Linked DNA regions of Homo sapiens: regions 1 and 2 are each linked to region 3. The links come from fine-mapping of genetic effects on gene expression. A gene starts in region 3. Each other region holds a variant in brackets. All regions are shown on one strand. Distances are between the middles of the regions.

Region 1 (5,231 bases), 79 kb after region 3:
TGTCAAGGAATTGGACCAATATGCTTTGTTTCCATTAACTGATTTGTACACTTACTCAACAAATCCTGGCTGGGTTTGTGACAGTTTACTGTGTGCATAGCTCCATACAACACCTTATAGGAGGGTGTACAAGAAGAGAATTTTACATGAGTCTGAAGACAGTGATTAAACATGGGTGAAAGAAATTCTGGTGGAAGGTGGTGAGACAAGGACCCTAGGAAAGAGATAGGTACAATTTTATGGGAACTCCTGTGACATTTTGGCATGTTCTTTATTGATTTATTGATGAACCCTCCCTACTTTTAGAACCTCAGCTTCCTGAATGTAAAATGAGGGAGTTTGCCAGATTCTATGTGGGTATTTTCACATGTGAATTTCTATATTCCAAAAATGATGAAGCTTTAAGCAAATATATTTCCAGACCAGTAAACTGAGATGTTCACTTCAGGGAGTAGTCCTAGCATTTTACTTGATGGATAATGGCTAGGTAAAGAAGATTGAATTATTGAGGGTCATGTATCTTATAAGGGGTAGAATTAGATTTGGAACTCAAGTCGAGGGCAAGGGCTCATGGGAATGGGTGTGCTTTCTTGCTCTTCCACCTTCCGCCATGCGATGACTATTTTGTGATGGAGTTGTTTCAAAAGTGATGGTAGAGGAATTCCCACAAGGGAGGGCCTCAAAATATCTTGTGATGGGGCCAGTTGGGATTCCAAAGAAAGAAACACTAAATGCCAAGGTCATCAGTCCAAAGCATTTATTAAGGCAACCTAGATGGAGAGTGCTGCAGCATATTCTCACAATGAACAGTGAGAGAAAAGGGATGTGCTATCTAGGTTGTCCATGGTGAGGGGGCCTGGGTATATGGAGATTATATGAAATTTTAGGAAATTTGGTTCACAGCCCGGGCCAGTTTCTTTCTAGGAAACCCAGATAACTTTTTCAGTGCCTGGGAATGTTCAAGTCCTCAGTTTGGGTTCAGGCCTGCTGGGCAAAACCCACAGCTGGTTGGGTCATAAAGCAGTGAAGGCATTCTGATTTTTAGTCATGATACAGAAAAAAAGTGAAGGAACTGGGAAAGCTTTCAGTGATGCAGTGAGAAGGGAGAAGGCCCTCACCAGATGATGGCATCTTGATCTTGAACTTCTCAGCCTCCAGTATTGTGAGAAATAAATTTCTATTTTTTAATAAATTACCCATTCTGTGGTATTCTGTTACAGCAGCATTAAATGGGCTAAGACACAGTCCAATCACCATCACATTCAGTGTCCAATGTTTCTGCTCCTGGCATCAGGCTTATGGGAGAGACCTTGCAGAACATAGAAGAATGGCCCTCAAAGATGTCCATATTCTAGCCTTCAGAGCATGTGGATCTGTTACTTTACATGAAAAGGAGGAATAAAAGTTGCAGATGGAATTAATATTGTAAATCATCTGACCTAAAATAAGGAAATTATTCTGGATTAATGTGGGTGGGCCCCATGTAATCACAAAGGTCCCTAAATGGGGAAGAGGGAGGCAGAAGAGCCAGAACCAGAGAGATATCATTGTGAGAAATAGTTGACCAGCCATGGCTGCATTTGGCAATGGAAAGGGCCCAGGACCCAAGGCATGTAGGCAGCCTCCAGAATATTGAAGGGAAAAATAACTGGATTCTCCTTTAGATCCTGCAGAAGGAATGCCACCTTAATTTGAGTCGTTTCTGTCTTCTGACCTCCAGAGCTGTAAGAGAATAGATTTGTATTGTTTTAAGCTACTAGTATGTGGTAATTTGTTATAGCAGCAATGGGAAACTAATGAACACTTTATTAATTTATATGGAATAAGTCACAATTTGGGTTAAATAAAACTAACCTGGTTGAACCAAAATTATTTTTAATATCTCTTCAAACAAGTATGCTTTTGAGGAAATTTTTAGTGCAAAGCAGGATGCAGGAATATATATTTAAGAGATTAGCTGAATTTAAGACTTCAGCACATTGCTTTTATGCTAAAATTATGAAGGAAAGTTATGTATTTGTTAATATAAGTCTGTAAGAATTTTTATTTAAAAGGTTTCTATCTCTGTAGTGGAGAATTGGGTGGATTATATTTCTCTGTGAATATTTCACCATTCACATTTTTCCATCATTATACTTAGCATACTGTATCCCTCACATTAGCAAGACCTGATGAGTGCTCTTCACTATGATTCGTTACATATTAGCAGGAATAAGCCTTAGGTTATATGGTCTTTGGCAAGTGATTTAAACTAAGGCTTGTTTTTCTCATCTACAAAATGGGGATGATCATATCTTCTATTATGGACTGCATGTCTGTGTCTCCCCAAAATTCATATGTTGAAACCCTAATCCCCAATGTGATAGTATTTGGAGATGAGGCCTTTGGGAGGTAATCAGATCATGAGGGATTGGTGCCCTTATAAGAAGAGACACAAGAGAGCTTGCTTCTCTCTCTGTTCTCTCCCATATGAGGACACGATGAGAAGACTGTCATCTGTAAACAAGGGAGAGGGTCTTCTTCAAGAACCTAAACATGTTGGTACCCTGATCTTAGACTTCCAGCCTCCAAAAATAGTGTTTGTTTAAGCTACCT[AG/G]GCTATGGTATTCTGTTAGAGCAGCCCCAAAGAAACTAAGAGAAACAGTAGGATATACATATCCTACTGTAGGATATACATATATACATACATATATATATATACACATATCCTACAGTAGGATATACATATATACTGTTGGTACTAACAGTAGGATATACATATCTAAAAATGTGGAAGTGGCTTTGGAACTAAATAATAGGTGGAGGCTGGAAGAGCTCTGAGGTGCATGCTAGAAAAAGCCTAGATTGCCATGAGGCAATTTTTAAAGGTGATTCTTGTGAGGACTCAGAAACGAGAGAAAACCTCCATCTTCTTAGAGACTACATAAACAATAATAAACAGAATATTGGTGGAAATACAGATGGTAAAGGTCATTTTAATGAGGTTTCAAATGGAAATGAGGAACATGTTATTTGAAATGGGAGAAAAGGCAATCTTATAATAAATTGACAAAGAATTGGCTGAACTGTGTTCGTATACTAGTGTTTTTGAAAGGCAGAAAAATTGAGGCAGAGGGTCACTTGTTCACAGTTATGGAGCCAGTAATGGTGGAGCCAGAATTGAACTGAAGCTAGAGTTGGCATTTCTCTATCTCTTTTCATCCCCAAAGGTAATGTAGACAGTGTGGGGATGGGTAGTACAGGGAGAGATGAGGGTAGAGTTACAGGGTGCTTCAGGCCAGAAGAAATAACATTATCAATGTGATCCATAAAGAAATATTGCCTTAGGTTTTCCTAAAACTGACTCACATTAAGCAATAATCTTGTTTTGGAGCTTTTCCACTTTAGTAAGATAAAAGAGCTGTAATAGTTAGATATTGTTCATATTACATGGGTCTAAAACAACTAGATGAGACTATGTATGTGAGAGTGCTTTGTAATCTGCAAAATGGAATATGGATATTACACTCCTTCCCCAGCTCAGGATTCAGTGCCTGACATGGAGATACTTGGTAATTAATTAGCTTATGATACGGGAAGAACTCTCTCTCTCTCTTTCTCCTCTCTCTCTCTTTCTCCTCTCTCTCTCTCTCTCTCGTTCTCTCTCTCTCTCACATACATACCCAGACACAGACACACACACACGTGCACACACAGTGTGTATCTAGTGTGTGCATCTCCCCACTAGATTGGGAGCTCCATGAGTGCAGTGTCTGTGCCATCTCTGTGTCCCTAATGCCTTACAGAATAACCTAAAATTAGTCATTAAACAATAAGCTTTTGTGATTTAAAAAAACTATTATAGTGCCTTTCCTTTTAGCTGGGATTTTTATATGGTAGACTATCTCTCTTTGGGATCAGGAGAAGGGATTGTTATGAATCACTGACTTTACTACAGAGCCACATTTATATATTACATGGTGGGAGGCAGGGTTAGAGGGTTAAGTGCTGAAAGGCCGCAGCTGGGAAGGTAGCACCCCGGTGACTCAGCTTTGGCTCCTCTAAACTTCAGGCCCTGAAGGATGTGGTGTGTGCACTGAAGTGAGGGAAACAGGAACCAGCATGGAGACAAGGTTGCTCTGTTTCCTCGGAGACTGTTTTCCCCAGTGCATTGAGCCAGGAAGTGGGTTTTTCCCCCACCTAGTGACCAGGGGATGGGTAGATAGTCTTGTTCATCACATAAAGAAACAAACGTGTTAGACTGGTCTGGCCAGTGACTTGTGGGTCTTGGCATGACAACATAGCCTGCGAGTAATATGGTCACAATGCCCTGGTGCTTGCTGTGACCAACGGAATCGATGAAAAGGGTGCAGTGGAGGATCACAGGCCTGAAGCAGCACGACCAGGAAGTCTAGTGTTGACACTGGATGCAGAGTGTAACATACAAGCTGCAACACAATCACCAAGCCCAGAGCAAGGTGACCTTAGTCAGCCCAGGGTTATGCCATGAGCAAGAAAGAAAAAAAAAAAAGAAAAGAAAAGTGAAGGGAGTAAGTAGCACTGAACGCAGAGGAAAAGGGTGGAATTTCAGAAAAGCTCTGCTAACCTGAGTTTGTGTTGGTCAGTGAGCTCTTGTAACTGGGTAAATGTGAAAATGGGCTACAAGCGCATATCAAGTACAGGTGAAAAGGACCAGAACAGAGAGGATCAGCCAGACCACAGTGTAGCTGACACTGGCCCACGCAGCATTTGACCATCTCCCTGGAAAGGAGTCTTGATGGTCAGAAAGATGGTCACATGTATATGCATGCAGTGGAAATGCTTGAATTGACCATTTTACCAAATCTGTATATAATTTACTTTAGAGCAATTTCTTGATATCAAACAATTTAGTAATGTAAAGTTTCAGTTAAAAAAATTCCAGCATTGTCTAAAAATGAAATAACTGAGCCGGTTATTATTCAGCTGTCCTACCAAGCTAGTCATATGGTGATAGTTGTGGAAGGAGTTGCTTACAAGTGGTATCCCAAGCAAGAACCCACATTTATTCCTAAATAGGAAAAGATGATGTGTAAAAAGGTTTCAACCCAACTGGACCTGCTTGACGATTTGTAAGCCTGGACAGGCATCGTGCACACATTTGTTAGTAGAAGCCCGAGAGAGCAGAATTAAAATCAGGTGCTACCAAAGCTGGCTAAGCAATTGTTATTAGGATCTAAATATTAAAGAAGTTACAGAGCCTGAATTAAGGA
Region 2 (5,231 bases), 35 kb before region 3:
ATGAACATTAAAATAAATAATGATAGCAATGGATTATAACCTTTTGAATCAAACAAGAATCCATGAGTTCATATGTGGGGAGAGTGTGTGAAAGCAAAGCTGTCTTTTAAAGTTGAATGCCAATTAATAAATGTAGAAGGAATAATGGAGGTAACAAATCATTATTTTGCAATCATAGTAATAACTTATTTGGAGAGGAATAATCAACAGATGCTGAAATTAGTGGGTAAAAGTTGGATAAAAATAGGTTATTTACATATTCTCAAAGTAGAGCATCCTTAAAATTTCTTATTAATTACAAAAGGGAAAATTACCATTAAACCTAGCAGACACCACATTAGCCAAGAGATCAAAGTTAACATAACCAATAATGGGACAAACTGAAATCCTGTACCCACTGAAGTCATGCTTTGACAAGAACACATCACTTATATAATATTCTTGCTCCAAATGCATAGTTTGAACCTAGTTAAAAATGAATATTAAAAATATAAATCGATGGCTATTAAATTTTCCTGTATTCTTCAAGCCTGTCAATGTTATCAAAGGCAGAGGCTTATAACCAATTATGTACTATTAAACAAGATTAAAGAAATATGAAACAAAATGCAATTCAGTTTATCCTACAAAGAATATCATTGGGACAAATGATGACATTTGGATAAGTTTTGCAGATTATATAATTATGTTGTATAACTGTTAGATTTCCTGATTTTATAATTTTTCTGAGATTATATGAGACTTTCCTGGTTCTAAAGAAATATACATTGAAATATTTAAGAGTGAAGAGTAAAATATATTTAACTTACTCTCAAAAGTTTGTATATTTATATGAGATTATTCATATGTACTGTATGTCTGTATATGAGAGAGAGAGAGAGAATGGTCACTCTGGGTAAAGTATATTCAGGAATTCTTAGTGCTATTATAACTTATTTGTAGATCTGAAGTTATTTCAAAATAAAAAGGCTTTCAAAAGGCTTGGTGTGAAAAAAGAAAGACAAGACCTATCATGTTTAGTCACAAGGTATATCTTGGAATACTAACATCTGGAAATTTGGATATTTTGTGAGATATAAAGAATAGTATTATGCATGTGTTTAGTGGCTTCTAAGCATCTTTTTTTTAACTTCAGTCATTTAACTTTATCAATTTCAAGATTCCTTCAAGAATTGAATAGTAATATAATTTGGTTAGGGATTTTGTCATTTGCTTATAAAATAATGAATTACATAATACTCATGAACTCTCCCAGCTACAATGCATTTATAAACCAGAATAGAAAGTAGTTGTTAAAAAAACAACAACGTCCAAGATGCTGGGGATATAAAAATATTGGAAAAACAGCTTTGTCCCTCAGTTAGTCAAAGTTTAATATGATGGTGGTGATGGATAGATATATATGTATGCAATTAATAGCTACCAAGAGATTTCTTGGTTTGTGTGGTTATGTAAGTATAAACAAAATGCTATGTATATATAGTACTGGGAAAGTGCTATGGAAAAACAGGAATGTAAGAAGTTAATTATGAAATGAGCTTTTAGGAAAGCTTCTCAAAAGAGTTAACATTTGAGCTGAGCCCTGATTGATGAGTAAAATTTAAAGAGCACTAAAGATCCTAGGCAAGTGCCAATACAAACAAAATCTTTAATAATGTTACTAGAAGGAAAGCTCTATGAAGGCAGAGTCCTTGTCCTGTTGCATGTGACTGACATATAGTGGGTGCTCAAAAAATATTTGTCATGTAAATGAATAAATAATAAAAATGGCATGTAAACAATCTGGTTATTGAGAAATAGTTCACTTTCTTCTTGCATGGTTTAGATTTGGTGGTGGTGAGGACATTCTTTTCAATTATCCTTGGAATAGCTAAAGAACATAGATCATTTCTATAATATACAAGTGTATGAAAGGTTTGTGTAAATATAATTTATTGAAATATCTGGGAAAAGGTATATAGAAAGAAATAATTATTAGAACCTTTAAATAATCTGCCTCTGATTTGAAAATGAACCAAAAAGAACTAGAAATAATTAAATATAATCTTTGAAATGTAAAACTCAATGGACTATCTAGGCAGTAGATTAGACACAGTTGA[A/T]GAGGGTATGAGTTAACTAAACAATAACCCGAGTGAATGACACAGAATGACACACATAGAGATGAAGAGAAGCTGGTGAAGGGGGATGAAAAGATTAGACAATATGGAGAATAGGCCCATAAGTAGGTATAATATAGGACTAATAGACTAATAGTTACAGGAGAGAACAGAATTGAAGAGAGATGAAGAGAGGCATGAAATATGGATTTTAGTCAAGAAACATCAATCTTGGCTTATCAATTGTAACAAAAAGTCCCACACTAATGTAAGATGTAGGATATATAAGATAAAGGATATCATGTGTGGGCAGATGAAGTGGGTACATGGGAACTATCTGAACTTTTTCTCTCAATTTTTCTGTAAACCTAAAACTGTTCCAAAAAATGTTATTAAAATAGATGAATAAATAAATAAAATTTGCAATGAGTTAAAGTTATAGTTTAAATTCAACCACATTAAAGGCAAAACCAAAAAGGGCTCATAAATTCTTGCTTGGCAAGAATAGAATGCATAAAAACCCAGGACATTAAAGGACTGTTAAGTTTAAAAACATTAGCATTTGTGAATATTAAAATCCTATTGCATTAGAGAAGCGTGAATGTTGACAGAAGCCCAGTAGAGTATGGAAAGAAGAGGCTTGAAGGTCAAAGCCCATTTTTAAAAGCCAAAAATCATAACTAAAAAATAGTCACTATTATACACCTTATATGGGAGTGTAATATTTACTCCCCGCAACTCCAGTCAAATTAAAGCCTGCTCAAGGAGCCATCTATAAGAATAAAGATGGTGATCATTTTTCATGGCTCTTCAACACTTAACCCAGCAAATCATATAACTCATCTCAAAATGGAGAAAGCCCTTGTTTTCAAAACGTGGTGCTCATCACTGCCTTTGCTCACATTTGAAATCAAGTGGCTCTGAAAAGGACTACGGTTTACTCCATCTAAGGGTAGCCACTGAGATCTTTGCCCTAGCTTCCAAAACATCCACCCTTGCAGGCTTCCAAACAGCTACCCATTGTCCTGGAACCCAAGGGCGCCACATGTGAGCAGGAGTCAAGTCCTGGCACATCACAGAATCTGCAGCACTCTGCCTCTTTCTCAATGTGGGGAGGAGGGTTAAACACCCAGTTGAGTGGGAAGGCACCCATTTCCCTTAAAGCACCAAGCCTCACGTATGTGCAACCTGTGCAGCTTGCATAGGGCCCCGTGCTTAGATGTACCTGTACGTGATTTAGTGCTCCGCTGTTGCCATCTTGTAATTCTTAAACCTTTTTTAAGGGTCCCACATTTTCATTTTGCACTGTCCTTTGAAAATTATATAGCTGATCCTGCTCCCATCTCTTATTTATTATATAATATACTAACATAATAATAGACTTTAATTCTCCCCAAAGATCTAACCAAAGTTTGCCAATGCTGGTGCCCACAGGGACCAAACAATGTGTAAATGATTGAAGCAGTTGTGTCAGGGAACCAGTAGGGGGTGCTGGGTCTGGGGTGAATAGGAAAACAAGTCTTATCCAAAAGGAGGAGCTAGTACTTGAACGGCTAAGTGTTGTCCTGTGGGAATGTGAGACGGCTCCAGCCAGATCTTCCAATTAAAAAAACACACACAAAACAAACTAGAGATGCGCTTTATAGTTTTAAATATTAAATCATCATATTTTAAAATGTTGATTCAATTAGAAAAAATATACTCCATGTGGGCCAAACAAAACATATCTGCTTGGCCATAACTTGGACAAGTTACAGCTTATGACTTCTGGCCTAGAACCTCAAAAGCAAAAGCATGTTCCTTAGTTTCCCTCCTTGTTTTTCAATAAGGTTGACTTCATTTTTCCTCTCTCTTTTAGAACACAAAAGCAGTTAACTTGTAGGTGATATGAGGAATCCAGACCGTAGGAATAAATGCTTGCCTTCATCCTGAAGGAAGGAAAAAAATCATTTTATTTTGGATGGAGCCACTACAATGAAAACAAATATAATGCCATTCTCAATAGGCAGGTTATGGTGTGTATTAAATTATTACTAAACTGCTGTGTTTCAGTTATTGATATTGGTGATCAGGCATAAATAAAACACATAAATAAAATAGTTGTGTGTTGTTTAACAATAGAAACATGTTCTGAGAAATGGGTTGTAAGGTGATTTAGTCACGCAAACATCACTACTGGGCCTACATGGTGGAGCCTATTGCTTCTAGGGTACAAACCCGTACAGCATGTTAGTGTGCTGACTACTGTAGGCAATTGTAACACAATGATAAGTATTTATGTATTTAAACATATCTAAACATAGAAAAGGTACAATTAAGATATAGTATAACAGGTGAAAAATAGCACATCTGTGCAGGGCACATACCATGAATGGAGCTTGCAGTACTGGAAGTTGCTCTGGGTGAGTCACTGAGTGGTGAGTGAATGTGAAGGCCTAGGATGTTCTGTATAAACGTATTACTGTATAAACTTTATAAACACTGGACACTAAGACTACACAAAATTTCATTAAAAATGTTTTATTTCTTCAATAAATTAACCTTGGCTCACAATGAACATTTGGTTTATAAACTTTAATTTCTTAAAACTTTTTGACTCTTTGGTAATAATGCTTAGCTTATTGTACAGCTGTACAAAATATTTCTTTATATCCTTATTCTATAAGCTTTTTTATATATTTTTTTTAACATTGGAAAAACCTTTTTGTGAAAAACTAAGATATAAACACACACATTAGCCTAAGCCTACACAGGGTCAGAATCCTCAGTATCACTGTCTTCCTCCTCCACATCTTGTACCACTGGAAGGTCTTCAGGGGCAATAACACACATGAAGCTGTCACCTTCTATGATAACAATGCCTTCTTCTGGAGTACTTCCTGAAGGACCTGTCAGAAGCTGTTTTACAGTTAACATTTTAAGTAGTATACCCTAAAATAATGATAAAAAGCATAGCAAAGACACAAACCAGTAACATATTATCAAGTATTATGTATGCACTGTACATAATTATATGTACCATACTTTTATATGACTGTCACCACAAACGTGGGTAATGTGTTGTGCTACAGCTTTACAATGACCACATCACTAGCAATAGGAATTTTTCAGGTCCATTATAATCTTATGGGGCCA
Region 3 (5,193 bases):
GCATGTCCTAAATAAATATTTTGACTTCATTGTATGACTTCGGTGATGGTGACTTACGTATCTGACATTGTGCTGGCTACTCTGAATCTTAGAGCCAAATGTATGGCCCACTTCTAGCAACTTTACAGGATCTAGTGGTGGGATTGGCAACTAATGCCATCGCTGGCTTCATCTTATCTATATTTTCTTTATCCAGATTTTCCCACTTTTTATTTTTTCTTGTGTTGCCTGTTTGTAAGTTGCCCCAAATCCTTACTGAAATAAGGCAGATTTTAAAATAAACCATAATACGAGGTGTAAGATAAGAAATAAAAGTCTAACCAGTACAGAAGCAGTCATTACTTCCAAGTAGGTAGTATGTGTTTGTGGGTTCAGGTGGGAGAGGGGAGTTTTGGGAATCATGTCTCAGATATGCAGAGATAGGAAAACATTTCAGGAAAAAAACCGCCAAAAAACATGAGCAAAAGCAAGTAAATACAAGATGAAAAGAACAGTTTAGTTTCAGTAACTAGCTAAAGATGAAGAAAAGCAATGAAAAAAAGGTTGAAAGGTATACTAGAGTAAGCATTTGGATTTTCTGATGTAGAAAAATGTGTAATAAAACATAGCATAGGTGAGAGATAAGCAGAGTTGCAATTTGTCAAACATGGTTTGGAGAAGAATAGTTAAGTGGCTTGTTAGAGAACCATTGCAAAAATCAAGGCGAGACAGAGTTATGGAAATGGGGCAAGAGAGAGTTTGTGGGCAAGAATGCCATTGCTCTGAAGGTGATGGAAGTGATTTAAAAATGAACAGGCCCTGCTAACTTGAGAGATCAGCAAATAAATGATCAGTCAATAATGGACCTAAAGAATGAGCCTAACAATGTGCTGTCTTCCATGCTCTTAAGCCAATACTACGAATAAAATCAGTACACAGCCAACTTTTACAGTGCATGGGCCAGGCACAAAGCCAAATATTTCAAAAAAAATTATCCTATTTTCTCCACACAAAATCCCTATAAAGCAGATACTTTTTATTATCCTCAGTTCATAGAACAGGAAGGGGCAGAGTTGAGATAGCTTTCCTAAGGTCACATAGCCCGTGGTTTTTAATCTAAGCAGTATCACTCCCAAGCAGCCTTATCCTCAGGGGATATGTCCCAAGACCCCCTAGTGGATGCCTGAAACCTCAGATCAATTTCTTTTTCCTTCTTCACTTCACAATTTCACTGACAAGATTCATTCTTTCCGTAGATCTTAGCAACCTCAGCATATGCTGTTTTTTCTTTCCTTAAGTCTTTCCTTAAGAACTTTCACCTTTTCACTTCAAAAAAGCACTTTAAAACTTACTGTTGGCAGATCCAAATCGCCAGCATCATTACTCCCGTACTTTGGGGCCATTATTAAGTAAAATAAGAGTTACTTGAACACAAGCACTGTGATACCACCACAGTCGATCTGATAACCCAGAAGGCTACCAAGCAGCTAAAGGGCAGCAAGAATATATAGTGGAATATTCTGGACAAAGGGATGATTCACCTTCCATTCTGGAAGGAGCTGGTTGGCTCAAGATTTTATCACGCTACTCAGAACAGCATGCAATTTAAAACTTACTAATTGTTTATTTCTGGAATTTTCATTTAATATTTTCAGACTGCTGTTGACTGGGGTAACTGAACCTGCAAATAAGGAGGTATGGCTTGTACAGCTGCTTCTTGATTTATGATGGGGTTACATCCCAATAAATCCGTCATAAGTGGAAAATGTAAGTCAAAATGCATTTACTACCCCTGTAAACCCATCATAAAGTTAAAAAAAAAAGTCTAACCATCCTAAATTATATACGATCGTACTTTTCTCTGCGTAAAACTACTAGAGTTGTAATAATGGAGGGGCTCACTAGGAGGCAGTAAACTCCTTAACACTGGTGATGTTCAAGCATGCAGTAACAATGATTTGCCAGAGCTGTTGATGAGCGGATTCCGGCATTCAATACCTTAGCAAGCTACAAAGTCTTTAGATTCCCTTAGTATTCATATAATAAAATCAAATTTTCTAAACTTTGCCACACAAGATAGTTCCCAGGTCAGCAGTTTCAACATCATTTGGGCACTTGTTAGAAATGCACAGTATCAGGCCCTACCCTACACTTAAAGAATCGGGATCTGTATTTTAAAAGATGCTCAGCTGATTAATAGCCACGTTAAACTTTTAGAAGCACTGATCTAATCCCCTAAATTTCACATATAAAGAAACAGAGACCACCCCTCAGAGGAGCAAACACAGACATGCTGGATCCGGTCGTCACTGGATGGGAACAGGGCTCCTGAAGTTTCGCACTAGAAGGCAGGCGATGGACAGGCGCAAAGGGGCCTCACCCGGTCAAGGAGTAGGATGCGGCCAGCGCAGGAGCTGGTGGTGAAAAACTGATCTCGCATGTTCAGAAACTGCACAAGCTCTACCACATCCTCGTCAACACTGCCCTTCCGGCTGAGGTCCGCTTTGCTCAAACATTGCGCCTTCCATTTCCTGAACTCCGCGCTGCGATCCATGGGTGACGGACTCAGGGTCTGCGCTCGGCTCCTTCATGGTAGCCTCGTCTCTCCCTGGGGGCAGCCATATTGAAGCGAGCGGTGGCCGAAAAGGTCCAAACTTCCTCTTCGTTCTTAATTTGGGAAATTCTAGTGCCTTCGCCTAGGGGTGGAGAGAGGCGCACATCCTGGGTGGAGCGAGGCGCACATCCTGGGTGGAGCCTGCAAAAGTTGGAGAAGGTGTGGCAGTCCTCATTTCTGTGGAATCTGAAGAAGCCCACGCAGATTTTAATTCCCACTCTAGATTCTGGTAAGTGGTTTTAAAAACTCTCCTTAGTTGTTTAGACAGCGAATCTCCCCACTGCTCGTCCAAGTGGAACCGAGTTTGATTTTGGCTGCACCCCTTTCCTGCCCTCTGTCCTCCCAGAGAACTAGTGCGTAGAGCTCCAGACCGAAGCCATTCCCCTCCAGGGGCTGCAAGTTCCCATCCATAAATCAGGTAGGAAGTTTTGCCTTCTGGTCCTGGGCTCCTAGCCCTGGTCCTGCGTTTAGGCTCTGAGTTTAGGCTACCACACCATGAGGTGTCCGTTGGCACTACCCCTGCCCAGCCTCCGCCCCCCGCACTCCCTGTCCCCCAGCCCCACGCTGCACCCCCCCCCCCCCCCCCCGCCAGTCACCCGCTTGATTTTTCCCTGCAGCCAGTGCCTGGGTTTGGGGATTCCTGCAGCAGCGCCCAGCGGTCTGTCCAGGGCCCCTTCCCACAGCCCAGCTCTCAGCTGTAGAGGATTTGTCCTAGGTAGGGCCCCTTCCCACAGCCCAGCTGTAGGGGATTTCTTCTCCTAGGTAGGGCCCCTTCGCACAGCCCAGCTGTAGGGATTTGATTTCTTCTCCTAGGTAGGGCCCCTTCCCACAGCCCACCTGTCAGCTGTAGGGGATTTCTCCTAGGTAGGGCTCCTTCCCACAGCCCAGCTGTGGGGGATTTCTTCTCCTAGGTAGTGCCCCTTCGCACAGCCCAGCTGTAGGGGATTTGATTTCTTCTCCTAGGTAGGGCCCCTTCCCACAGCCCACCTGTCAGCTGTAGGGGATTTCTCCTAGGTAGGGCTCCTTCCCACAGCCCAGCTGTAGGGGATTTCTTCTCCTAGGTAGTGCCCCTTCGCACAGCCCAGCTGTAGGGGATTTGATTTCTTCTCCTAGGTAGGGCCCCTTCCCACAGCCCAGCTGTGGGGGATTTTTTGTCTTGGATTCCCACAATTACAGGTTTCCCGGAGCTTCCTCCAGCTTTGCCATCAGGATTGCAGTCTTTGAGAGAAATGTATAGTTTTATTGACCCTGTGACGCCCACCACCTAGAATAATCTTCAAAAGAAAATTACAAAACACCCTGTTAACACATCGTTGGATGTTTATACTGAGTTTCTAGAGGAGACTCAGTGACCAGGGAAGGTGTGTCAATGATTAAACCTAAAGGCTAAAGTTTGGAATGCTTGTCCGTAGCTAATGGAAATTGTTGTGCGAGTCCCTCTGAAGCCACTGTGATTACGTGTCTGGTTAGCGCAGCGAGTTCAGCAGCAAATCTCTCCAAGCTCTACTCCTCCAGCATTAGGGAACAGACTGCCCTGTTCCATACGATCATGGAACCTGGAGGAGTCCGAAATTATTAAACTCCTCCCCTCTTCTTACCCCGTCCTATCTCAAGTGAACAGAAGTGACCTGATAAGATCACACAGCCAGGAAGAGACTTTCTCTGACCACTTGTAATTCTTGCCTTTTTTACATTTCTGGGTTAATAATAAACCATATGCTTACATGAGTCATTGTGTATTAGCAGCAGAACAATTTGTAATGATTGATTTTTTTTCTAAGTTTTCAGTTTTTAAAATTCTTGCCAGAATTCTTATTTAATTTTACTTTTGCTCTTGTCTCATAATGTTCCTTTGCTCTGGCTTTGTGACTTGATCTGTTCATCCTATGTTAAAATATACTCCTAACATTTTCCCAATTCCTTTAATTTTCGTTTAAATCAAATGGATACAAGCATAGCCAGGAAAAAGATCACTGTTGGAAGAGGGATTTTAGATTTTCTATTTCCTAGATTTGTAAGGCATATTGGCAACCTTTCAGAGGTAAAATTAAACCAAAAATTAAACCAAGGGACTCTTAATTTTTAAAAGTTTATATTTGATAAACAGGAAGGCCTATTTGAAGTATAGTTTAATTAAAAAGCACAAGCAATGGAAAGGCCTGTCCTGTTCACAAGGATCCGATGCTAGGGAGTAATTTTTTTTTATACATTTTTAAAAATAGAATCATGTCCTTTGTATTTCTGCTGCATTCCCTGACTTAGTGGGCATTTGAGAAATTTCAAACTCTAAGCAGATGCCTTAGTCATAAAATATGCGATTCTACCTGCAGGTTAGTTTGATTTCACATTTTCTAGCTCAATCTGTCTCACTATCACTATTGTAAAGTTTATTTCTACGAAGTAAAGGGTCTTATATGCCAGCATCTCAAAGGGTGAGATGAAAAGGATGGTAAAGAAAAAAATCAGCTAACACCATTTAATTACAGGACTTGGGTTCTAGCTTTGCTTCTGTGTGACCCTGACCAAGTCTCTTAACCTCTTGTGATGTTTTCTCATCCATAAAATGGATGGCGATTTTATTTTTACTTCTGCATAAAATA

Evidence for each region. PIP is the estimated chance that this variant, and not a neighbour inherited with it, causes the effect.
Region 1: its variant is fine-mapped to the expression of TYW3 in whole blood (INTERVAL, PIP 0.91).
Region 2: its variant is fine-mapped to the expression of TYW3 in whole blood (TOPMed, PIP above 0.99).

Annotation. Positions count from the first base shown.
Region 1 is chr1:74,651,826-74,657,056 of GRCh38, reverse strand. The region is part of intron 1 of ERICH3 (glutamate rich 3); the gene reads left to right. Among named protein-coding and RNA genes, the nearest start is that of ERICH3, 19 kb to the left of the region's middle. The variant AG/G (reference allele first, on the strand shown) is at 2,596.
Region 2 is chr1:74,766,047-74,771,277 of GRCh38, reverse strand. TYW3 (tRNA-yW synthesizing protein 3 homolog) reads right to left here. Exons shown (of 6, transcript NM_138467.3): 6 at 4,601-5,231. Among named protein-coding and RNA genes, the nearest start is that of TYW3, 36 kb to the right of the region's middle. The variant A/T (reference allele first, on the strand shown) is at 2,100.
Region 3 is chr1:74,730,585-74,735,777 of GRCh38, reverse strand. It overlaps TYW3 (tRNA-yW synthesizing protein 3 homolog), which reads right to left and starts at 2,626. Exons shown (of 6, transcript NM_138467.3): 1 at 2,360-2,626. The coding sequence starts at 2,533. CRYZ (crystallin zeta) reads left to right here and starts at 2,728. Exons shown (of 9, transcript NM_001889.4): 1 at 2,728-2,822. RefSeq lists enhancers at 2,012-2,111, 2,492-2,781, 2,336-3,046, 3,642-3,931.